Linked DNA regions of Homo sapiens: region 1 is linked to region 2. Evidence: fine-mapped expression QTL. A gene starts in region 2. The other region holds a variant in brackets. All regions are shown on one strand. Distances are between the middles of the regions.

Region 1 (9,001 bases), 710 kb before region 2:
AACCAGCATTACTCCCTGTCACTCCAAGTCAATATTGACATAACAAAGGAAGGCGAGGGGAGGGTGGTTGGGGGGGTGGGTGGGGGAGCGGTTCAAGGTGGCTTCCTAGCCAGTAATCCTTTCAAATCTCCAGGGTGCTTGCAACCATCTTCACCTCTTCCCAGGGGAAAGATTCTGCCCCGGGAGTAAGAAGCTCTAGAATTCTGCCTTGGGGAGAGAGGCTGATGGGATTGTCAAACTGGGGCCCTGGAATCAGTGCTGTCGGGCTGGGGACCAGTGTCTCTGGCCTGTAAAACCTTCTCCCAAAACCTTCTGGGAGGCTTTGAGGGTCTCAGAGGAACCTGGCAGGAAGGTCAGAACTCAAACACTCCCACATTCCTGGGCCCTCCACTGGAAATGGGGTCAACGCTTAGCTGGTCACAACTTACCAGGAATCTGTGAGGTGAACGGAAACGTGCCCAGCTGGCTCTGGGGTCATGGTTGGCTGGTGATGGAATGGCCCAGCCAGGGGACAGGCCAGCACAAAACGCACCCCCACTCTCCAGCCATCTGAGGCACCCGAGCGTGGACTGAGGACAGTCCCTTTCTCATTGCCAAAAACTGTGGGAAAACTCTCCAGTGGGCCACATGACTTTCAGAGGTAAAATTAAGTTCTCTATCTTCTACCCTTTACTTGACCCACAGGATTCTCTCCTTGCCATGGGGATGAGGACAAATTCTCCCTTCATCCTTGAGATTGGACTCCCGCCACACATCCTGGAGGAGCCTACAGAGAAGCCGGCAGGTCTCCCTCACCTGGATGGTGCCAGCGGGTGGCCTGGACCACCCAGAGGCCCTCTCCTGCACCTGACAGGAAGCCCCTGGGGCATACGTCTCCCCTGCCACTTCCACTGTGGCCACTGGAAGTGTGGCAGAGAAAATAGCTAGGACAAAAAGAAGTCAATGATTTCAACCAACGGAATTTCTTTGTCCTTTGTAAAAATCAACACATGATCTGTTACTGATTGGGATGTGAAATAAAACTAAAAATAACAGCACACTGAGCCTGGCTCAGGGCTCAGCTCACCTTTACCACGGTCCAAGTTCAGTTTATCAGATCCCAAGGAGCAGCTAAGCAGCAAGTCAAACACAGGTGAGGGTGGAGGGCGGAGGGCGGAGCGGGGAGGGGGCTCTGGCCCTCTGCGTGCCCCCACCAACCCCCAGGTAGAGAACCAGCCAGCTCACCAGGGAGTGTGGCCAAGCAAGAAGCTATACACAGAATTCTGAGCCCACACCCTAATCTGCCTCAGGTGGGGAGGCCACTCACTTCCCTTTTTGCCTCAGTTTCCCCACTGGGGTTACCAGGGTCTTCTGGCACATTCCCTTGTTTTAAGGAACGGTGGAAGAGGGGTCCCCTTGAGATCAGGTTAAGCTGTGAAACATCCTGCCAGCGCCACAGGCCACTGGGTCCTGGAAGGTCAGGCCACAAAGACCTCACCAGGACACTGTCTCCAACAGCTTATTCAGGAGGGAAACTGAGCAAGAGCCCTCACGGGGCCCCTCACTGCTGCCCTCATTTCCCCACTTTCCTACAAGGCCTGGGGCGGTGCCAGGGAGTCTGCAGATCAAGGGTCAAAGTCAGTTGGTTAATTACTCCTCCCCTCCCCCCTCGGAGGGGCTGGGCTGGGCGTTCAGAGCGTCCACGCCCCGCCCCCAAGGCCTGGGGAGGGGGCGTTCGGAAGGAAGCAGGCTTTCTCCAGACCAAAGACTTTGTTGGGGGTGGGGGAGGACAGAAGGGGTAGGAGTGTTCTTGGGGCGTTCAGGGGAAGATGCCGCTGGAGGAAGAAGCAACTCTCACAGTCGACGCTGTCTAGGCGTCTGCCAAAAATAACTGGGTACACCAGCTTCCCCGGGCCTGGCCCTCCGCTGTGGGGTGGGCTCCCTGCAGCTGCTTTCCATGCAATTGTGCCCTCCGCAAGGTGAAGGAAGTGCGTTTCTAGCAGAGGTGAGACCCGATCCCACCTCTGCTTTAAGGGCAAGCGGGGCGCAGCGGGCGCCTGTCCCACCGTCTCGGCTCACTGCGCGGGACTAGCAGCCGGAGCCCAACGAAAATTTGGGGGCCCACGCCCCCCACCGGCCCGACCCTCACTCCGACCCGGCCACCAGTGTTGTGGGGGAGGAGGAAGGACCTGTGCGAGCGGCTGAAGCTCTGAGCTTTTAACACAAATCTCGGCCGAAACTCCAGCCCGCTCCCCGCCCCCCAAAGTGGCATCGCTCCAGTGCCTTCTCCCGCCTCATGCGAGTCCCGGTTTTCTGGATTTACGACGTCGGAGCCGAGGGTCGCCTGAGCGGTGACACACCCCGCTGCCTCCTCTGTGCCGCGGTTCAGGGGGTGGGGGTAGGCGGTTCCGCGCCCCCTGGCCCTGGGAGCGGCTCCCCTTCCACCATGCAGCCCCCGCCCCGACCAGCGCTCTTCCGCCGGCCCCGCCCCCGCCCCCCGAGTCCCGGGTCGAGAGCCGCGGGCCCACCCAGCCCAGGCCGCGGCCGCATTCAGCCCCGGCGCCCACACCGCGCCTGCCGCCTGGCTCCGCGGACCTGCGCCCGCCCGCCCGCCCGCAGCCTCGACGCCGCCGCGGGTGCCCCAGGCCGGAGGGCGGTTGGAGCCTCACCTGGCACGTAGATCTCGCCGCGCTCCTCGTCGGGGAGCTCGCTCCAGTTCCTCTTGCACGTGGAGACGCACGGCTTCTTCACCAGGAACGCGCGGGGCATTTTCGAACCCTCGTCGCTGGACACGGGCCGCTTCCGTAACTGAAGCCGGGAGCCGTCCCACCTTTGCGGGGCCGGGCTGAACGCCGGGAACGGGGGCACAACAGGGAAGGAGTCGCTAAGGCGCCCCCACGTTCCGGGGAAGGTCCGAGCCCGGACGGCGCGCGGCGGTTCCACCTCCGCGGAATGTCGCCGTCTTCCCTGAGAACGAGGTCCCTTGCGGCCAGGTGCACCGGGCGGCGCGGGGAAGCGGCAGGTAAGCGTCTCCCGGCTCGACTGGCGTCCCCGCCGCCGCTCGGGAAGTCTTAAAGTGCGAGCCGGACGGACGGGTTCACGCTTTATTGGCTCGCGGCGGTGTGTGTTGGTGGCTGGGGCGGGGGGGGGTGGGGGTGGGGGGCGGTGATCTGATCTAATTAGCTTGGGGTGGCCCGGGGAGCGACGGCGCATGCGTTGGGAAATAACGGTGACAACCCACCTATTTGTTACCTGTCGAACCGGTTTCCATTCCGCTGCGGGTGAGGTGGCCTCGCGGCC[C/T]GGGCGGGGCGGCCGGGCGGGGCGGGGTCGGGGGGCGAGCTTCGGGCACTCAGCCCCTGGCTGCCCAGCCGGCCCGGCCCCCGCGGGACCTCCTAGCCAGGCGTACTGGCGTTTGCAAACAGGAGTTTCGGAGCGAGCGGAGCCGGGAGGGAGGGGGCAACGTTATTTGCACCGGCGCTGGCACGCTCCGCGGGTGATGACACGAAACTCGCCCCACTGGGGCCGGCCCAACCCGGCGCGCCCGAGGCTCCTGGGGAGGCGCGAAGCCGCCGGGCGGGAACGGGCGGCCCGGTCCGCACTTGTTGAACCGGGCCTGGGCCCAGGCGGCGCGGGATCCCAAAGGCTTGGCTAAGCAACTCGTGGCTCAGCCGGGGAGGTGTTTGCTGGGCGCCGGCTTTGTGCGAAAAGGCACGCAGGGCCGCAGGAGCGGCCCCGGCCGGTGTGTGGGGAGGCACGGACCGCGCGACCGAGTACCCGTCGGAGAACCCGCCTTCTGCCCGGAGGGCTTCACGGAGGAAGTGGCTTCAACTGCGCGGAGTGCGCCGAGAGCCCGACAGACCCCCGTGTCTTGGCCAGTGGGACTTATGCATCCTCAAAAAAACTCCTCCTTGTCCCAAATGGGTGGATTTCAGGTGCAGCCAGGCTGGTGGAGCGCGGAGGGCTGGGGACCTCAGACCGGGAAAGGCTCAGCCGCCTTTGCCCTGCTGCGGCCACCGCGGAGAGCTTCCTACCCACGGCCTGCCCAGGGCTGAGGTTCAGCCTGGGACCCGCGCCCCCAGCCACTCTTCATACTCTCCTCAGGCCCCAGGCCCACGTGGAGGGATGCCCCCGCTCCTCAGAGGCCTCCATGAAGCCCACACTCTCATCGTGACACTTGGGCGCTGGCTGGGCTTCCTTCACTCGCTGACCTACTTAAGGGCAGGGATGGGGCGTTCGTGTTTGCCTCTTCCCCTGCCTTTCTAAGGGCTGTGACCTCCACTCTGATCCCAGCCAGACCTTTGAGTTCAACTGACATTAAGTGAACACCTGGTATGTGCCTATCTTTTGAGGTGAATCCAGGAGAAACAACCTTAAACACAATCTGTCTAGGACAGAGGTGCAGTTAGTTCATTCATTCAACAAATATTGGTTGAGCAGTTTTGTTGTGCCAAGCCCTGATGGGCTGGTACACAGTGGGTGCTCGGTGGATACTACGGTGAAGTCTTCACAGATGTCCCTAGACACAAGGGGCAGTCTTCCCCATCAAGGGAGCAACTCCAATGTCCAGAGGGACAGGACACTGGGTAGATAAAGTGAAGCCAGCCAGGGGAACCCCTCCCTGCACAAGTGAGTTACAGGATGTGGAATGGGGCCCCAGGTGGGAGGCGGTGTTGTCTACTGCTATATCTCCAGCATCTACAGCTGTGCCTGGCACAAAGTGGGTTATCAATAAATGTTTGTTGAATGAATGAATATCCTCTTTTCTTGACTCCTGTGACCCATTCACCTTTCACAGTCCAACTTTTGGTGGAGACATAGATATGGGAAGACAATACTACAAATTCAGTGAGAAAACACAACTGGCCCTGGCCGTTGGGGAGAACAGAGTTGGGGGGACGGGAGAGAATGTCCCTATCTAAACGGCAGTCACAATCCTGTCATTCAGATGCACAAACCCCACGTGGCCACAGCTTTCCATTTTCCAAGAGAAGCCAGAAGTCCAGATTTGTAAGTGAAATCAACTAATTTTTAAATGTTAGCTCAATTTTTTTATTTTTAAAATAATTTTAAGAGTTGGGGTCTCACCAGGTCGCCTGGCTGGAGCACAGTGGTGCAATCTCGAATTACTGGGCTCAAGTGATCCTCCTGCCTCAGCCTCCTGAGTAGCTGGGACTACAGGTGTTTGCCACCACACCCAGCTAATCAAAAAATTTTAAAACATGGAATGGATCCAACAAAACACCTTTGTGGGTTAGGTTTGACCCACAGGCCGCGGTGTGTGGTGTGGCTGTCTTCACGGGCAGCTCAGGAGACAGACGATGTATGTGACGGCGGGGAAACACGGAGTTGAACTGTGAGTGTCACGAAGGCTGGCGGCCTGTGCTCTGTTCACCACATCTAGCAGTACATCTCTGTTCATCTAGCAGCACAGTGCCAGCTAGATGGTGTTCATTCATCCCGTAATTCTTCCCTTAATTCCTGAGAACCTGCTGTGCCAGGCACTGAGATTCTACAAGGCAAGGCAGACAAAGAAACAAGGAAACAAGCAGAAGCCTAAGATGCACAGAGAACATTTGGCGAGAGAATGTGATGGTGGCAGGTAGGGGTGCTGAGGCCTGAATGAGAGGGTGGAGCCAGCTGTGCAGAGTGGAGAAGATCATGACCAGCAGAAGGAACAGCTGATGCCAAGGCCCTGAGCAGGAGTGAGCCTAGTGTGTACCGCGAACCCAAATGCAACCTGGCCGTGCGGTGGGGGGAAGAGAGGGTAGGGAAGCTGAGGTTGGAGAGGCAGGTGGGCCACACGAGGTGCTCTTAAAACCCAGGCCAGGCCTCCCCTCGGCTCACACCCTCCAGTGGCTTCACTGCAGCTGGAATAAGAGCCTGAGGCCTGGCGTGCTGGGGCCGCCGTTGACCTCCCAATCCCCTTCCAGCTGGGTCCCTGTATGCCAGCCACACTGCTGTCTCCCGCGTCCCCTGAACAAGCCTTGGCCTGTTCCCAGCTCTGGCCCCTCCTCCCGATGCTCCTTCTGCCTGGAACACTTTTCCCTACTGGATTACTGGCCACCTTTCTTCATTCAGGTTTCAACCAAATGTCCCCTCTTCTGAGGGGCCTCTCCATCCACCCCAGCTAAATCCTTGTCCCCTGCCACCTCTGTCCCACTATCCTATTTTCTTTGCCACAACTTTGACTCTGTGGCGTTTCGTTTGTCTTTCTTGTTTATTGTTGGTTCTCCTCCCCACCAGTGCAAGTTCTGAACTTGAGGGACCCCTTTTTATTTTACTTTTTTATTTTTATTTATTTTTTTTGAGACGGTGTCTCCCTGTCGTCCAGGCTGGAGAGCAGTGGCGTGATCTCGGCTCACTGCAAGCTCCGACCCCCTGGTTCACGCCATTCTCCTGCCTCAGCCTCCTGAGTAGCTGGGACTTACAGGCGCCCGCCACCATGCCCAGCTAATTTTTTTGTATTTTTAGTAGAGACGGGGTTTCACCATGTTCTCCAGGATGGTCTCAATCTCCTGACCTCGTGATCTGCCCGCCTCAGCCTCCCAAAGGCTGGGATTACAGGAGTGAGCCACCGTGCCCGGCCTTATTTTTTATTTTTACTTTTTGTGCCCCTGCTGGTCTGGGGTGGGACCCCTTTTTAAACACCATTTTAAATAGCTTTATTTAGATAGAATTCATATACCATCAAATTCACCCTTTTGTAAGATGTACAATTCACTGGTTTTTAGTAACCTCACAGAGCTGTACAACCATCATCACTAAATCTCAGAACATTTTCATGGCCCCAAAGAAAACCCTGTACTCATTAGCTGTCACTGTGTCTCCCTTCCCCCTGGCCCAGCACCCACTATCTGCTCTATCTCCATGGCTTTGCCTATTGACTCGTTCTTTCCTAAGCCTTCCTGTATCCCCAGCAGCCAGTGCTGCGAGAGTGTGTTTGTTGTAGCCCGATTTTACAGATGAGAAAACTGAGGCTCAGGACCCCTTGGGAAGCTGACTTTCCCTTTTACAAGCCTTGTGTTTAGTGTCTGCCCACAACTGGGCTGCATGGGGAGGACAGAAACTCAGCAGGAGAAGAAATGAGGGAGGGCGTGGAGTGGGGAATTCCCAGCTCAGCATCCGGCAGTGGCCCACACCTGGGCCCTCGACTGGGATGTTGCTGTCCCGGGTGAGTCCGGTGACAGTCTGAGCTCAGCTCCATGCCTGGCCTTGCCAGGGACAGAGCCAGCACCACCCGCCAATAGGGGAGCAGACAGGTGAGAACAGGGCCCATCCAGGGACCTGGACACCCAAGAGGGCCGAGGGTACCTGGTGTGGGGGGAGGACCAGGTCAGATGCAACAAGGGGCTGTTTGTGGAAGTCGAGGCTCCACCTCTGAGGGGCTCTGTGACTGAGAGACCGTACCTCTGTGGGCTTCCCTTTCCTCATCTGATACCCACTCTCGGTACCTGGGGTTGCTGTGAGCCTCAGTAAGTCCATGCGGATTCGTCCACTGCAGTATTGGAGACCACAAGTGGGTTCCCTCCCTCCAGACCCTCAGCCTCAAGGAGTCAAGACTCAGGCAGGAGGTGTGCAGAGGCCACGCTGTCAGAGGCTGAGCCGGGGCCAGAGCCAGTGTCAGGCCCCCTGATCCTTGGAAACCTGTCTTCTCAACTCTGCAAGAAGTTTAATGATCATTCCTGCCTCACCGTGAGGGTGGTGAGGGCCGGGGATGTGCAGTTACCAGCACCCTCTGGGCTCAGACAGAGAAACCAGACTGGCTCCTACTGCAGGCTGCCTCCCCTCCCCAGGGCTGCTCTCATCCTGCCTCTTTCATCTTGGGTTTAATTAGCCAGGCTGCCTCACCCCACAGCCTCTTGGGTGGGAGTTATCACTCCCATTTTATAGATGGGGAAACTGAGGCACCTAGAGGGAAGTAGTTTGGGGCTGCTGCCTGTGAGTCAACTGTGGAGCCAGGGCCTAGAGGAGCCGGGACCGGGCCTTCTGGCTGGACCTGTCCCTCCGAGTGGGTCTCTATCTCTCCATCCCCAAGGGCACCCAGACAGCCTCCTTTTTGGCACTCTCCACCCCTCAACTCTCCACCACCTCCCATCTGGAGCAGGATGGGGTAGGGAGAGGCCAGCTGGCACTGGCTTGCATGGGGGCTCAGGCCTGTTTCATCTTCAAAGCGGCTAATTGGAGCCAGAGGGGTGGTGAGGTTTGGGCGCCGGCGGTTCTGTGCCCTGGAAACCGGTGGTCTGTGGGGCACCTGCAACCTGGGCCTCTGGCCTGGGAGAGACCGCCGCCCAGACCCCCGAATGCCCCCAAACAGCCAGAATCCAGCCCACTGAAGTCTGGAGTGCTGGGTTCCGGCCCGGCTTGGCCCCAGATCTCGGTTGGCAAGGCCGCCCTCCTCCTGGGCCTGTTTTCCCCATCGCTAGGCATGCCTCGAGCCCCGTGACCGGCCAGGCCCTGACAGCCCGCACTTCCCGAGTATGGATCCCGTTGTTTTCGACTTAGGGCCCTGCCCCGCCCTCGCCGTCACGACCCCTGCGGGCCGCCAGCGCGGCCTCGGGCAAACAAAGGTCAGAAGCTCCTGGCTGGCCGCAACCGCGGCGCCGGCTCCTCGCCCCCAAGCCGAGCGGGCTGGGGGCCCGGGCAGGCGTCAGGGAAGCGAAGCCAAGCCCTGCGGCGCCCGCCGGACCGGTTCAGCTGGGGCGCTTTTCCTGCGGGCGCCCTGCGACCGCACCTTGGTCACCCCCAGGGGCCACTCCGGGAGCCCCAGGACCCGCACCCACGCCCCCCGGGGCCGCGCGTCTGGCGCAGGGTGCGGTGTGCCCGGGCGCCGGCGGGGGGCGCGCTGGCTGCCGCCCTGCGCGGCTTGGCGGGCGCTGGTGGGACCGGGCCGCTGTCCGCCGAGGGCCGCGGGATCGCAGCCCTGCGCCGCGGTACCCGGCATCTGGGGCCCAGGCCCACCCCGCTCCGCCACCCCTACCCACTCCCCTCCGCCTTTCCTGCCCCGGCCTGCGGCGGTTTCGGG
Region 2 (15,357 bases):
AGCAAAACACAGCTTCTGCTGCACAGCCAAGGCCTCTCTGCACAGCCCCAGCACCAGGTACTGTTACTCCCCAGAACAAGCCCCTTTTGTCATGAAACCATCCCTTCCAGGACCTCTGGCTCCCATTCCCTCTCCACCCCTTCCTGGCATTCCGCCCTGCCTGACCCTGTGTACCTTAGCAGCCGGGCCAGCCAACCCAAGGCCGGCCGACGTCGGTACTTGTCATCGTCACAGTCTCCATGGAGGCCTGGTGTCCGGTCATCATCCCGCGTATCATACACCTTCCTAGGGGCTACAGGGTGGAGCCACTAGCATCAATAGACTCAGGAAAACTGGCCGCTTTGGGGAGGGCTAGGGGGATCACCTGCTCTCCTCAGTCTGACAGAACATCTCAGAATTGTGAGGAGGTAATGGCTGTGCCTGGATTAAGGAAAGGTTCCTCCGGGTGGGTCTCTGGATCCTCAAGCTCCCCCTATACAAACCATTCCACCCTCTTCCTATCCTTCTGCGGCCTGGATAACTCCCAGGCTCACCGTGAGTCAAGGGCTCAGGATTGCCCATGTGGATCACTGTGTGCTGCTCGGGCCGGCCTGGGGAAGCTGGGGGCCGGGGGGCCTGGCTGTAGAAGGCTGGGGCAGCAGAGGCGCTGTCTACCTCCTCTGGTCCAGGGGTACTGCTGGCTGTGGGTGGAAAGAGAGCCGTCAGCAGAAGCAGTGCATAGAGCTCAGGGGTAGAGCATGTGACTGCAGACCAAGGGAGCTGTCAGCAGAGCAGGGAGGCTAAAGCCCAAACAGTCGGTGGAAGCCACCACTTACCATTAAAACTAGACCAGTCAGAGAAGTCAGACGTGTTGAGGGGCTCGGGCTCTGGGCTCACCACCTCATCGATCTGGAGGAAGGAATCTGGGTCACCAGGCTGCCTAGTATTGTCCCCACCCACCCATCTGACTCAGGTGGGGCCCAGGGCAGATAGATGGTCAGACAGACGAGGGACTCTCACCAGAGGGAGGCCCAGTCCTGCCCGGGCCCAGTTGACTGTGGCCAGCTTCTCTCTCAGTGCGGAGGCCACGGGGCCAGCCAGGTTGGTTGGGGGGAAGATGGGGCCATTGCAGCTGGGGCACTGATAGCCGGCAGGTGCCGTGTTTCGGGGTAGCTGGGCAGCACGTTCATTGAGGCAGGCCCAGTGAAAGAGATCTTAGGGCCCATGAGACAGGGGAGAAGAGACATGAGGAAGAAGACACTTAGGGCTCCTAGCCTAGCAATAGTCCCCAGACCATTGCAGGACATATGGACACATGTGTGTGTGCCAGAGCCTTCTCCTCCCCGTCCTGTTCCCTAAAATGTCAGTCTTCTTGGCTACCACCATCTAAGTCCAGGCAGGTGCTACCAAGCTGTCCAGCTCACAGGGGTAAGTTTGGGTAGGAAGAAAACGCCACCTCCCCTTTCAGTCCTTTCAATGAGTCCTCTCTGGGCCTGCACTCATCATATTCTTTGGGCTAATGGCTAATAATGAACAGTTTCAGAAAAGGTTCCTCGATACACACACAGGCACACATATACATGTACACATCCCTGGGCACAAATGTACATGTCCTTATAAGCACATAATCAAACACAAGTGGCATTCCCTATATCTACACTATGGGTACAGGAGCCCTCACACATACACATCTATACACTCACAGGTTTGCTAACAGGCACCCTCAACCATGCATTCTCTTGCACTCCCACAACACACCTGTGTTCATATGTTCACATACATACATTTACCCATTCATTCACCCCAAGTACAGATCAACACACTAACACTCATTTAAACACACAATGTACATTAAGTGCCTGCAAGTACACACATGCACTCACAAGGAGAAACACATATGGAGCTGACTCTTGCATGAGCTCCTTCAAAAACTGGAGCTAAGGCTCTTACCCCAGATTCAGGTCAAAGTCATGACACATATGTCTGCTGACTTCTTTTAGCTAACTTTAATGTGGGAAACTCACTTCCTCTCTGTTTAGCCTTGGAATCAGTGGTGGATCCTGAATATCTGAAAGCAACATGCCGGTCTGGCTAGCTAATAGTCACGGCCACCAGCATACCCGTAAGCTTGACTGGTTCTCGCTGAAACCTCCAGATTGGCAGGGCTTAATTTTTAGGAAAGAGGAACTAGGAGCTTTAATTTTTAGGAAAGACAGTGAGGCCTAGAAAGGAAGAATAACTTGCCTGAACTTACACAGCAGGTAAGGAACTTTAACAGGACTAGAATCTGGGCTCTGAGACTCGGGGGACTCACTGTCCTGCTGCTTGAGGAGGGCCTGGAAACCAGTCACCAAGCTGGCCCCTGAGGCTGGCCTGATCCCCCCGAGGTGCCAAGGCCTCACCATAGCAGACAAGGCGGGTCGTCTCTCGGCTGGCCAGGGGTATGTTGCACAGGCGGCAATTGGGGTTGTAGTCGCTATCTTGGAGCCATTGCAGGTAGGACTGGACGATGCACTGGAGTGGGAGAGAGATGTCACAACTGGTGCTGGGGCTGCTCGGCCTATCACCCCAAGGTCCGACTGTCTCTTTTTCTCTAGCCACAGAGGAGACTCATCCTTTCGTTTGTTTAATCAATAAATATTTATTGAGCACATACTGTGCACCAGACTCTCTCTTGGGAACGGGGGATATATCAGTGAACAAAATAAATCAAGTCCTTGCCCTTGTGGGGCTTACATTCTAGCGCGGGGCCCCTCATGGATTTGGAGGAAGCCAATACCGCCTTGCCCACCCAGTGCCCTGCTCAGTCGCTCCCCTGAAGGCCCCACCTTGGCGTGATTGGCTACCAGGCAGTGCTCGCAGACGTTGACCCGATGTTCGAAGCAGAACAGGTTGGTCACCTTTCTCTTGGGGCACTTACAAAGCCCCATGATCGATCCTGGGAAAGGGGCATGAGTTGGTAGGAAGTCAGGTTCTGGTGGCCACCACTACGCTCTCACCAGCCCAGTTTCCACTCTTAACTCCCCCAGACACCTCTCATATTCGCCCCGATCTCAGATTCCTGCCCACTGTCCCTCCTTATGCGGAGAAACACCCCCTGCATAAATCCCGCCTCCGGCGACCCCTCAATCCTTCTGGATCCCGCCCCCGGCCAGGCCCCTCCATCAGAGGCTCCCCGATACTACCGGCCCCGCCCCCAAGACCTCTCCTGAGCCCCACCCCCTCCAAGTCCCGCCCCTTCTCTACAGACCCCAGTCTCTGTGTTTACTGATCGGCCGCTGCACTGGTTCCGAAGGGCGGTAGCGATGGCTCGAGGCGCGGAAGGGCAGGGACCACTCTCCCCAGGGCTCCTGCGCCTCTCCCTTCAGCCCCGGCCGCCCCGATTATCCCTCCGCTGCCACGTCTCTTCCGGGTGCGGCGCGCGCTGATGACGCCATCGCGCCCCTGGGCCACGCCTCCGCTGCCGCTAGAGGTGAAGACGGGTGGAAAAGACTCGGGGTTCCGAGGGCCGCAGACCGCTAGCCCTACGTCACTTCCGCTTCCTTTCCCGCAGGGCGGGTAATTCGAACGTTTTTTGCAGCGAGTGGCCTTCCCGGTTGGCGCGCGCCCGGGGCGGCGGCGCTGGAGGAGCTCGAGACGGAGCCTAAGTTATGTCTGGGAGGCGAACGCGGTCCGGAGGAGCCGCTCAGCGCTCCGGTGAGCGGAGGGCGCGCGGGAGACGTGAGGTCGAGCCGTTTGGGGGACGCAGTCCGGTGAAAGATGGCCTCTTCCCTCCCGCTGCCGCCGCCGGAGGAGGCGCCCTTAAAAGGGCTTGTTTGGGAATCTTCTCGCTGTCTCTAGAACCTGTTCTCTGGACTCTAAGGTCTAGAGTCCTCCTCTACCACTTAACTTTTTTCTCTTTCCAGGGCCAAGGGCCCCATCTCCTACTAAGCCTCTGCGGAGGTCCCAGCGGAAATCAGGCTCTGAACTCCCGAGCATCCTCCCTGAAATCTGGCCGAAGGTGAGCCCCAGATTTCTCACTTCCTCCCCTTGTGGCCCCTCACCTAATGTTGAGCTCACGTTCATCCCTCTTCTCCAGACACCCAGTGCGGCTGCAGTCAGAAAGCCCATCGTCTTAAAGAGGATCGTGGCCCATGCTGTAGAGGTAAAGGCTAAGGAGAGTGTTGTGGGTGGTTAGGCGGGCAAAACTGGGGACCAGCTATGTGATCAATTGGTATTGTCCCCCGCAGGTCCCAGCTGTCCAATCACCTCGCAGGAGCCCTAGGGTGAGTTCACTTTCATCTACTTAATTAAGTAGAATCTGGGTCACTCTAGAGCTGGACAGCACACATTGGCTCCTCACATCTGCCCAGGGAGCTGTTTTGCAGTACTGCAAAAACAGTTTGCCTGTGGGCACCTGCATGCATTGCCAGTCTTGATTACTCCCTGAAGACTTAATACACTTAACTTTTTATGCCTTGTGTATTTCTACCATTTTCCTGGAACTTCCTTTAAAAGCTGAGCTATGTCTTAACTCCACGTACTGCCTTTCTAATCCATTATGCCTTCAGCTTTCATGTATGGGTGTTCTGAGATAAGTCATGTGTATGACATTTTTACAGTTTTAGCAGAAGTTATTATCAAAGGATGTTTCATTAATAGACAATCTGAAGACATACTGACTGAGAAATGTGAACTCCTTTGAAGAGCTGATAGGGCTTAGAGTCAACTGGGGAGAAAGACCAATGACAAGTGATAGCAACGTTGTGTACTGGGACTGCAATAAGGAATACTAGATGCTATGATGGTAGCTAACCCAGACCATGTGGCTCAGGGAATGTTTCGTGGAAGAAGAAACATTTGAACTGAGTCTTTAAAGACAAGTAGAGGCCGGGTGCAGTGGCTCACGCTTGTGATCCTAGCATTTTGGGAGGCTGAGGCGGGCAGATCACTTGTGGTCAAGAGTTTAAGACCAGCCTGGCCAACGTGGTGAAACCCTGTGTCTACTAAAAATACAAAATTAGCCAGGCATGGTGGCACGTGCCTATAGTCCCAGCTACTCAGGAGGCTGAGGCAGGAGAATCGCTTAAACCCAGGAGGCGGAGGTTGCAGTGGGCCGAGATCACGCCCCTGCACTCCAGCCTGGGTGACAAAGCGAGACTCCATCTCAAAAAAAAAAAAAAAAAAAAAGACAAGTAGGTTTGTTCCAGGTCAAAGAAGCCATGTTTGCAGAGATTGGGAATTTAAAGAAAAATCAAGGTTCGGGGAATAGCAATTTGTTTAGTGTCTGCAGCAGACCTCAGCAGGGGAGGAAGCACCCTAAGGCAGAGCAGATCCTGATGAGGCACAAAAGCCACACTCATGGCTTGGGCATCATTCTTGGGTCTGTGGGCAGCCTTTGGAGAGTTCTGGGTAAGGTAGTGACCGAGTCAAGTTTGAGTGTTTTAAGAAAGACCCCTCTGGGGGCTGTGGGGAGAATGGTTTTGAGAAGGGCTACCCTGGGGCTCCAAGACCAGTGGAATGACGTGAAGTCCAGGAATTCTGAAGCATGAAGCCAAGGGCGTGAGCTAAAGCCAGGATGATATACAGTACTGGGTTCAGAGGGAATTGCCCCCCAGTGGCCTTCCCTGACCACCCTTACCCTATTGCTGTCACATTTCTCTATGTAATTCTCTTAGGCCTTACCAGTTCTAAAGATAGGGTCTTGTTCTGCCACCCAGGCTGGAGTGCAGTGGCGAGATTTCGGCTCACTGCAGATCTTCCCTCCTCAGCCTCTCAAGTAGCTGGGACTATAGTCACATGCCACCATGCCTGGCTAATTTTTTGATGTTTTCTCTAATTTTTTTTATAGAGATGAGGGTTCACTATGTTGCCCAGGCCGGTCTTGAACTCCTGGGCTCAAGTGATCCTCCCACCTTGGCCTCCTAAAGTGTTGGGATTACAGGCATGAGCCACTGTGCCTGGTCCTTATCAGTTCTTATAGTGTATTTTCTTGCATGTTTGATGTCTTTCTCTCCCCCCTCTAAGAACACAGGCACCTTGAGGGTAGGGACTTCTGCCTTTCCTAGTAGCCACTCATTCTTGTTGATTGACTGAGATTCATGGTACATCGAGCAGGATAAAGTTGCCAGGACCTGGGTGACTGCTTGGCTATAGAGAATGAGGAAGTCGTAGTCAGCAGTGACCACCAATTTGTTCAGCTTCCCTGTGTTTTTTTTTTTTGAGATGGAGTCTCGCACTGTCACCCAGGCTGGAGTGCAGTGGCGCAATCTCGGCTCACTGCAACCTCCGCCTCCCAGGTTCAACCGATTCTCCTGCCTCAGCCTCCCAAGTAGCTGGGCTTACAGGCACCTGCTACCACACCTGGCTAATTTTTTTTGTATTTTCAGTAGAGATGGGGTTTCACTATGTTGGCCAGGCTGGTCTCAAACTCCTGACCTCAGGTGATCCACCCACCTCAGCCTCCCAAAGTGCTGGGATTATAGGTGTGAACCACCATATCTGGCCACCCATTATCTCTTGAACTTCATCTTCAGTTTCTTCCTCTTGCCTTCACTTCAGCCACACTGGCCTCCTTGTTGTTTGACCCTGACTAGTACACTGTGGCCTCAGGGTTGTTGCACCTTCTGTTCCCACTGCCTAGAACTTGGCCATGAGTCACTCCCACACCTCCTTCAAGTTGTAGCTTGAATGTCACCTCAGTGAGGGATGTATTGACCTTTATCTTTTTGCAATTCTAACCTGCCCCAAGCACTCTCTCCTGTTCTGTTTTCCTGTAGTGCTTGATACTGCTAACATAATACTGAATTTTCTTACCTGTTTTTCTCTTAGAATGGGGCAGGGGTTTTCTCTGTTTTATTCCCTGCTGTGTTCCCAGTGCCTGGCACAGGACAGGTGACTGATAAATACTTATGGACTGAGTGGACATTTAGGACAATCCTCATCAGCTGTGTGGCAGATGGACCACAGCAGGCAAGGGTGGAAACAGGGAGAGAAATCAGAAGGTCGCTGGGACCAGCCTGGGCAACAAAGGGAGACCTCCCCTACTCTACAAAGAAACTAAAAAAAAATCAGCCAGACAGAGTGTCACATGCCTGTAGTCCCGGCTACTCAGAGGCTGAGGTAGGAGGATTGCGTGAGCCCTGGAGGCTGAGGCTTCAGTGAGCCATGATCGTGCCACTGCACTCCAGCCTGGGCAACAGAGTTGAGACCGTTTATCTGGAAACAAAACAAAAAACGTTGCTGAGCTGGTCTAGAAGACACCTAATGAGGGCTTGAGTTGGTCAGAGGAGAGGCTGGATGCTGGGCACATTTTGGAAACAAGCGACAGCACCAGCAGATGGGGGCAAGTCCATTTGTGTCACAAAAGCAGACTCCTTGGAAGCAATGGTGGGTTGTTTTCTTCTCTCCATGTCTCTTTCAGGGTCTGATTTGTCCCTTCCTTAAAAAAAGTGTGTGTTGGCCGGGCATGGTGGCTCACGCCTGTAATCCCAGCACTTTGGGAGGCCGAGGCGGGCGGATCACGAGGTCAGGAAATCGAGACCCTCCTGGCTAACACGGTGAAACCCCGTCTCTACTAAAAATACAAAAAATTAGCCGGGCGAGGTGGCGGGCGCCTGTAGTCCCAGCTACTCGGAAGGCTGAGGCAGGAGAATGGCGTGAACCCGGGAGGCGGAGCTTGCAGTGAGCCGAGATCATGCCACTGCACTCCAGCCTGGGCGAGAGAGCAAGACTCCGTCTCAAAAAAAAAAAAAAAAAGTGTGTGTCCTGTGGGTCTTTCCACCCTGAATCTTCTCGGGCTTTTCTGGAAGTAAGCAGTCCAGCTAAGTATTGAGGGCATCCCCTCTTCTGTCCTGGTGCAGATTTCCTTTTTCTTGGAGAAAGAAAACGAGCCCCCTGGCAGGGAGCTTACTAAGGAGGACCTTTTCAAGACACACAGCGTCCCTGCCACCCCCACCAGCACTCCTGTGCCGAACCCTGAGGCCGAGTCCAGCTCCAAGGAAGGAGAGCTGGACGCCAGAGACTTGGAAATGTCTAAGAAAGTCAGGCGTTCCTACAGCCGGCTGGAGACCCTGGGCTCTGCCTCTACCTCCACCCCAGGCCGCCGGTCCTGCTTTGGCTTCGAGGGGCTGCTGGGGGCAGAAGACTTGTCCGGAGTCTCGCCAGTGGTGTGCTCCAAACTCACCGAGGTCCCCAGGGTTTGTGCAAAGCCCTGGGCCCCAGACATGACTCTCCCTGGAATCTCCCCACCACCCGAGAAACAGAAACGTAAGAAGAAGAAAATGCCAGAGATCTTGGTGAGTGAGAGGCAGGGGTTTTTCTCTGCCGTGTGCTCTGGGAGACGTGCAGGGCTGGGGCTCTGGCTCTTTTGGGGGATAGGCAGCACCTGCAGGGTGTGGGTGAGATGCTCCAGCCACCATGTTCCCTTCTCACTCACCTGCTCCTCATTTCTCTTCCCTCAGAAAACGGAGCTGGATGAGTGGGCTGCGGCCATGAATGCCGAGTTTGAAGCTGCTGAGCAGTTTGATCTCCTGGTTGAATGAGATGCAGTGGGGGGTGCACCTGGCCAGACTCTCCCTCCTGTCCTGTACATAGCCACCTCCCTGTGGAGAGGACACTTAGGGTCCCCTCCCCTGGTCTTGTTACCTGTGTGTGTGCTGGTGCTGCGCATGAGGACTGTCTGCCTTTGAGGGCTTGGGCAGCAGCGGCAGCCATCTTGGTTTTAGGAAATGGGGCCGCCTGGCCCAGCCACTCACTGGTGTCCTGTCTCTTGTCGTCCTGTCCTTCCTATCTCCCCAAAGTACCATAGCCAGTTTCCAGATGGGCCACAGACTGGGGAGGAGAATCAGTGGCCCAGCCAGAAGTTAAAGGGCTGAGGGTTGAGGTGAGAGGCACCTCTGCTCTTGTTGGGAGGGGTGGCTGCTTGGAAATAGGCCCAGGGGCTCTGCCAGCCTCGGCCTCTCCCTCCTGAGTTGCCTTCTGTTGGTGGCTTTCTTCTTGAACCCACCTGTGTAAAGAGGTTTTCAGTTCCGTGGGTTTCCCCTTTGATTCTGTAAATAGTCCCAGAGAGAATTCGTGGGCTGAGGGCAATTCTGTCTTGGAGGAAGAAGCTGGACATTCAGCCTGTGGAGTCTGAGTTTTGAAGGATGTAGGGAGCCTTAGTTGGGTCTCAGACCATAAGTGTGTACTACACAGAAGCTGTGTTTTCTAGTTCTGGTCTGCTGTTGAGATGTTTGGTAAATGCCAGGTTGATAGGGCGCTGGCTGCTTGGAGCAAAGGGTGCATTTCAGGGTGTGGCCACCAGGTGCTGTGAGTTTCTGTGGCTCATGGCCTCTGGGCTGGTCCCTTGCACAGGGCCCACGCTGGAGTCTTACCACTCTGCTGCAGGGGTGGAAGGTGGCCCCTCTTGTCACCCATACCCATTTCTTACAAAATAAGTTACACCGAGTCTACTTGGCCCTAGAAGAGAAAGTTGAAGAGTCCCAGACCTACTAGCATTTTGCAACTATGCTTGTAAAGTCCTCGGAAAGTTTCCTCGCGTACCAGACAGCGGCGGGGGCTGATAGCAATTTTAGTTTTTGGCCTCCCTATCCTCTCACATGAGAACACTGCCTGGATGCATCTCATGATCTCTGGAGAATTTCCCCATCTTTCTCTTCTTTCCATCGTGTGGATTCAATAGTGTGGATTTGAAGGCTGCCCTGCCCCCGACTCTCCTGCCGCACCCCTGGCCATTGTACCTTTTGATGTTTAGAAGTTCGTGGAAGTAGACGCTGAGGTGTGCAGAGGAGCTGGTGGATAACAGAGAATGCCAGGGAAGATGAGTGCTGGGTCAGGGTACTTGGATGAAACGGTGCAGGCCAGGCGGGCCCTAATAAAACCCTCTGCCAGGTCTGGGAGTCCCAGGCCATCTGCTCAACGCTCTGTGGTTTGTCAGACCTGCAAGCAAGCCCCCTGCTGGGGAAGCCTAGGTGTCCTTGAGCTGAACCGCACTGAAGAACTCTTGTCCTCACTGGCTGATGCAGCAGAACTCTTGGGAAATGTCTTAGTCCTGCAGAATCAGGAGTCACCAGATGATGCAGAGTTGAGATCATCATTGCAAAGTTCTCTGTTCCTGAGGAACTAAATTTAAGGAAAAAATGGGATTTTGTTTTAGAGTTGGAAAAAAAGCCTGATTAAAGAGTTTCTGCCTGTTCATGGACTGTGTTTCTTTTATTGAGTCAAAGGCAGAGCCGAAGGTAAGGCCAGGCCTCCAGTGGGCTGCATCACTGGGGTTGTCCCTTTGTCCAGGCGCTCCCAGCCCCGCTTCCCCGCATTCGCCCCATGGTAGATCACTGTGCCCCACACACTTTTTTTTTTCTTTGAGACAGAGTCTAGCTCTGTCTCCCAGGCTGGAGTCCAGTGGCGTGATCTCAGTTGACTGCAACCTCTGCCTCCCAGGTTCAAGCGATTCTCCTGCCTCAGCCTCCCAAGTAGCTGGGGTTACAGGTGCCCACCACCACGCCTGGCTAATTTTTATATTTTTATTAGAGATGAGGTTTCACCATGTTGGCCAGGCTGGTCTTGAACTCTGACCTCAAGTGATCTGCCCTCCTCGGCCTCCCAAAGTGTTGGGATTACAGGCGTGAGCCACTGCGCCTGGCCTGTCCTGCCCCGTGTCTTGTTTATTTCTGTCCAGTCCCCAGTCTGCTCCTCTTCTAGGAGGAAGAAAGTCGGGTCTGGGGTGAGAGTGCTAAGAGCTCCCCCAGTGCCCACGGGAGATGCCTGGGAAGCAAACACCCTCCCGAGTCCAGCCCTCGTTCCCCATTCCCTTTCAGGCTCCTTTGAAGGAGCCCGAGTTGCTCACTCCATGGTCCAGACTGGACACTGTGTAGCAGCAGGTGCTGTGGGACCCTGGGGAGCTGATCAAAGATGCTGATGCCTGGAAATTCTCCCACTTGGCCTTAGGTAAGGCTAGGACCCTACAGGCAGGTGGCACAGACCAGCCTCCCATCCCATCCTCCACACTTGTACTTGCCTCCTAGTCATCCAAACAAATCAAAGCCATTAAGTTCTCCACAGACTTAATCCGCTTTGACCTCCTTCCCCCACCCAGAGGAGATGGGTCCCCTCTTCAAGGCTAGCCTTTCCACTTTGGTTTTTGATCCAATTATCTTGTCTCTGAAACCTTCCTCTTCTTTTTCTTCCAAGTCCTAAATGGCTTTTATTTGCTTTGTTGTTAAAAAATGACAACCAGGCTGGGCACAGTGGCTGACACCTGTAATCCCAGCACTTTGGGAAGCTGAGGCAGGAGGATCACTTGAGCTCAGGAGTTCAAGACCAGCCTGGGCAACATAGGGAGATCCTGACTACAAAAAATGTAAAAAAAATAAATGGGCGTGGTGGCACATATCTGCAGTCCAGCTACTCAGGAGGCTGAGGTGGGAGGATCACCTGAGCCTGGGAGGTCGGGGCTACAGTGAGCCATGGTGACGCCATTGCACTCCAGTCTGGGCAACAGAGTAAAGACCCTGTTTCAAAAGACAAAAAAGACAACCAAAAGTCGACCAGCATCTGTCGTTAGCTACCACCATTTTAAGCTTGAAGGAACGTTCCAAGTTGCTCTTTACTTTGAATTTATTCCCAATGCCCTCGTCACTCTCTTTAACAGCTCAGACAAAGGTAACCAGTGATGTCCTAATATCCAACATACTAAGCTCGGGCCTCTGCCAGGACACCCTCTTTGGGGCTGTGGCACTGCCAGCTCCTTTTTCTTGGCTTTTCCTGAAATGTCTGGATACCAGGCCTCAGTCCTGGACCCTCTTTCCCACCTGCCTGCTCTTGCCGGGTAGCCTCGCTCTCTGGACTGCCTCCTTGCTCAAGACTTGTCCATCTTTATCTCCAACCTAAAACTGTCCTGAGCTACAAATCAGAATCTAGAACTGCCTTTCAGGAAGTCATCTGAAGCTCTGCTCATCCAGCAGCTTGCCTACTCCTGTGTTCTCTGTGCCATTAGCAGAGCCACCAGCTGACACAGTCACACGGGCCAGGAACCCAGGACCAGCTCCTTCTTCCTTCACCCCATGTGGCCAGCCCCATCCCCCTCAACATCCCCCCCACCCCACAGCCACTAGACAATTGCACTAGCCTCCTGTGGGTCATTCCCTTGGGCTGCTGTATCTCCACACTGTCTGCACTGCAGCTAGAACACATTTCCTAAAACACACAATATGATCCTGTTTCTCCCCTCCTTAATTTTTTATTTTTATTTTTGAGATGGAGTTTCACTTTTGTTGCCCAGGCTAGAGTGCAGTGGTGCAATCTCGGCTGACTGCAACCTCCACCTCCTGGGTTCAAGTGATTCTCCTGCCTCAGCCTCCCAAGTAGCTAGGATTACAGGTGCCCACTGCCACACCCGGCTAATTTTTCTATTTTTAGTAGAGACGGGGTTTCGTTATGTTGGCCAAGCTGGTCTCTAATTTCTGACCTCAGGTGGTCCGCCCAACTCAGCCTCCCAAAGTGCTGGGGTTATAGGCGTGAATCACCGTGGCTGGCACGCCGGGCCTATTTCTCCCCTCCTTAAAACCCTTTTTTTTTTTTTTTTTTTTGAGACGGAGTTTCACTCTTGTCACCCAGGCTGGAGTGCAATGGCACGATCTCGGCTCACCACAACCTCCACCTCCCGAGTTCAAGCGATTCTCCTGCCTCAGCCTCCTGAGTAGCTGGAATTACAGGCATGTGCCACCACGCCCAGCTAATTTTGTATTTTTAGTAAGAGACGGGGTTTCTCCATGTTGGTCAGACTGGTCTTGAACTCCCGACCTCAGGTGATCCACCCTCCTTGGCCTCCTAAAGTGCTGGGATTAGAGGTGTGAGCCACCATGCCCAGCCAAAACCCCTGCCAATTTTTTTTTTTTTTTTTTTTTTTTTTTGAGACAAGGTCTGGCTCCGTCGCCCAGGCTGGACTGCAGTATTGTGATCTGGGCTCACTGCAACCTCCACTTCCCAGACTCAAGCCATCCTTCCACCTCAGCTGCCCAAGTAGCTGAGACTACAGGCACGTGTCACCATGCCTGGCCTTTAAAACCTTTTAATACAATTTCACACCTGAGTGTAATAAGACCAGAGAAAGTTGAAAGCAGGCATTGGAATAGATTTGTACACCAAGTTCCTAGCAGCATTATTCAACAATAACCAAAAAGCTGGAAACAACACAAATGTCTACCAGCAGCTGAATGGATAAAGTGTGACCTATCAATACAGTGGAATATTATTCAGCCTTAAAAAGGAGGAAATTGGGCCAGGCGCGGTGGCTCACACTTGTAATCCCAGCATTTTGGGAGGCCAAGGTTGGTGGGTCACTTGAGGTCAGGAGTTCAAGACCAGCCTGGCCAACATGGTGAAACCCCATCTCTACTAACAATAGAAAAATTAGGTGGGCGTGGTGGCGGGTGCCTGTAATCCCAGCTACTTGGGTGGCTGAGGCAGGAGAATGGCTTGAACCCAGGAGGTGGAAGTTGCAGTGAGCCGATATTGTGCCACTGCACTCCAGCCGAAACAGAAACCTCTGCTGACTTCCCATGCTCCGTGCAGCAGTGGAATGAATGGTCGCTGGTGCCTGGCTGCCCAGTAGCGTCTCAGCCTCCAGGCATGTGCTGTCTGCAGGACCCCAGCCACTCAGTGGGAGTGAATATCCCAGATGCTTGCTCTCCCTGATCCCGGCAACCAGGACCTAAACTGATCAGATTCTCCACCTTGAGTGATGGGTGTGAGGAGGGATGAAGGCACCGCCTGTCCAGCAGTGTCTGGTGTGGGGAATGCGTGTTTGTCCATCTGCAGGCCCTCCCCTGTCCTAGTTCTGGCAGTCGGCGCCCTACAGTGCCTGCCCTTTGAAGTCTCTTCTTCCCGTGAGTTCTGTGACTCCCCAGCATCCTCCCAATAAACTCCTTTTTGCTCAAATCAGCCAACATTGTTTCCTGTTTGCACCCCAGAACCCTGGCTGGTCTAGGGGGCTCCTGACACCTTAGTGGGGCTCATGAGGACTCCAGGCCGAGGCTGGTGTCCAGGCTTCAGCCCACAGACCCACCGCAGGCTGCGAGCTGCTTGGAGGTCCCTGCCTCTGAACCTTTGCTCTCTGCCTCTCGTGTCTTTCCCCACTCCTGCGTCACCTGGGGAGCCCCGCGTCATTAAGTCTGGCTCACGCGTCACCCCTGCTCAGCCTTTCCTCCCCACCTGCCCCACCCTGGTGAAAGCAAAGAGCACAGGTTCTGCAATCCAACTGGGTTTGAATCCTGGCTCTGCCAGCTTCTAGCTGTGTGATCCCAGGCAAATGATAATAATTAGACTCTGATGTGCCTCAGTTTCCTTAACAGTAAAATGAGGACAATAATAATACCTATGCCACAGTGTTTAAAAATGAGATAGTCGGCCGGGCGCGGTGGCTCACACCTGTAATCCCAGCACTTTGGGAGGCTGAGGTGGTTGGATTACTTGAGGTCAGGAGTTCAAGACCAGCCTGGCCAAGATGGTGAAACCTCGTCTCTACTAAAAATACAAAAATTAGCCGGGCATGGTGGCGGGCACCTGTAATCCCAGCTACTCGGGAGGCTGAGGCAGGAGAATCACTTGAACCCTGGCGGGTGGAGGTTGCAGTGAGCCAAGATCATGCCACTTCACTCCAGCCTGGGTGAAAGAGAGAAACTCCATCTCAAAAAAAAAAAAAAAAAAAAAAAGAATGAAATAATACAAGTAAAGCACTTGGTGCATGGTAAGTGCTCAATGAACAATTTTCAAGTAGAACTGACCATTCCCTCCCTTTTTAAGTCTCAGAAGTCCACACAGACCTCCATCATAGCACCTTCAAGCTCCATTCTGTCTGCTCTGCACACACGTTTACACAGTAGCTGTGTAAACTCCAGCTCAGGCTGGAGGCAAGGTTGTATTTGTCTCTGTCCCCCCAGTGTCCAGGCACATCATGGAGTAAGTGGATGTGGTGGTTTCCCACCAGCCTGGGCAGGTGTGCCCCTCCAGTGGGAGCTGGGGACAGGGGCTTCAGAGAGCCTCTGAGTGCCTGGTAGGAGGGGCACAGGTGGAGTCAGGAGTGATGGCACCTGGCACCCTGCCTCAGTCATGAGCCTCCCACAGCACAAATTCTAGTCCCACCAGTGTGCATGTGAGGTCTGAAGCCAGCCCCATGGCTCACACCTGTCCCCATTTCTTGGAGAGTGGACTTCACCCTCCCTCTCCACAGGGCAGTTCCCCACACAGCCTATGGACCCCTCCCTCCTCGCCTGGGTCCTCAGCCCGGTAGCTCACCACCCTTTCAGATGAGGCTTTGGCTCAGGCCTGGTGGTTCTCCCAACACATGGGCCTAGACCAGGCTGCCTTCCCCTCTCCACAGTGTGGCTGACAGGTTGGCAG

Evidence for each region. PIP is the estimated chance that this variant, and not a neighbour inherited with it, causes the effect.
Region 1: its variant is fine-mapped to the expression of ZFPL1 in whole blood (TOPMed, PIP 0.91).

The regions. Positions count from the first base shown.
Region 1 is chr11:65,781,121-65,790,121 of GRCh38, reverse strand. It overlaps OVOL1 (ovo like transcriptional repressor 1), which reads right to left and starts at 3,059. Exons shown (of 4, transcript NM_004561.4): 1 at 2,649-3,059. The coding sequence starts at 2,748. It overlaps LOC124902693, which reads left to right. Exons shown (of 7, transcript XM_047427980.1): 7 at 685-1,121. It overlaps OVOL1-AS1 (OVOL1 antisense RNA 1), which reads left to right. Exons shown (of 2, transcript NR_108085.1): 2 at 685-1,121. RefSeq lists enhancers at 3,373-4,354, 7,775-8,432 and a silencer at 8,693-9,001. The variant C/T (reference allele first, on the strand shown) is at 3,280.
Region 2 is chr11:65,072,251-65,087,607 of GRCh38, reverse strand. ZFPL1 (zinc finger protein like 1) reads right to left here and starts at 3,386. Exons shown (of 8, transcript NM_006782.4): 1 at 3,230-3,386; 2 at 2,808-2,917; 3 at 2,382-2,493; 4 at 1,000-1,193; 5 at 816-888; 6 at 534-680; 7 at 175-292. The coding sequence starts at 2,909. CDCA5 (cell division cycle associated 5) reads left to right here and starts at 3,568. Exons shown (of 6, transcript NM_080668.4): 1 at 3,568-3,675; 2 at 3,885-3,979; 3 at 4,058-4,123; 4 at 4,209-4,244; 5 at 7,821-8,255; 6 at 8,421-10,155. The coding sequence starts at 3,630. The coding sequence ends at 8,501. RefSeq lists enhancers at 2,083-2,667, 3,257-3,526, 3,607-3,836, 8,476-8,977.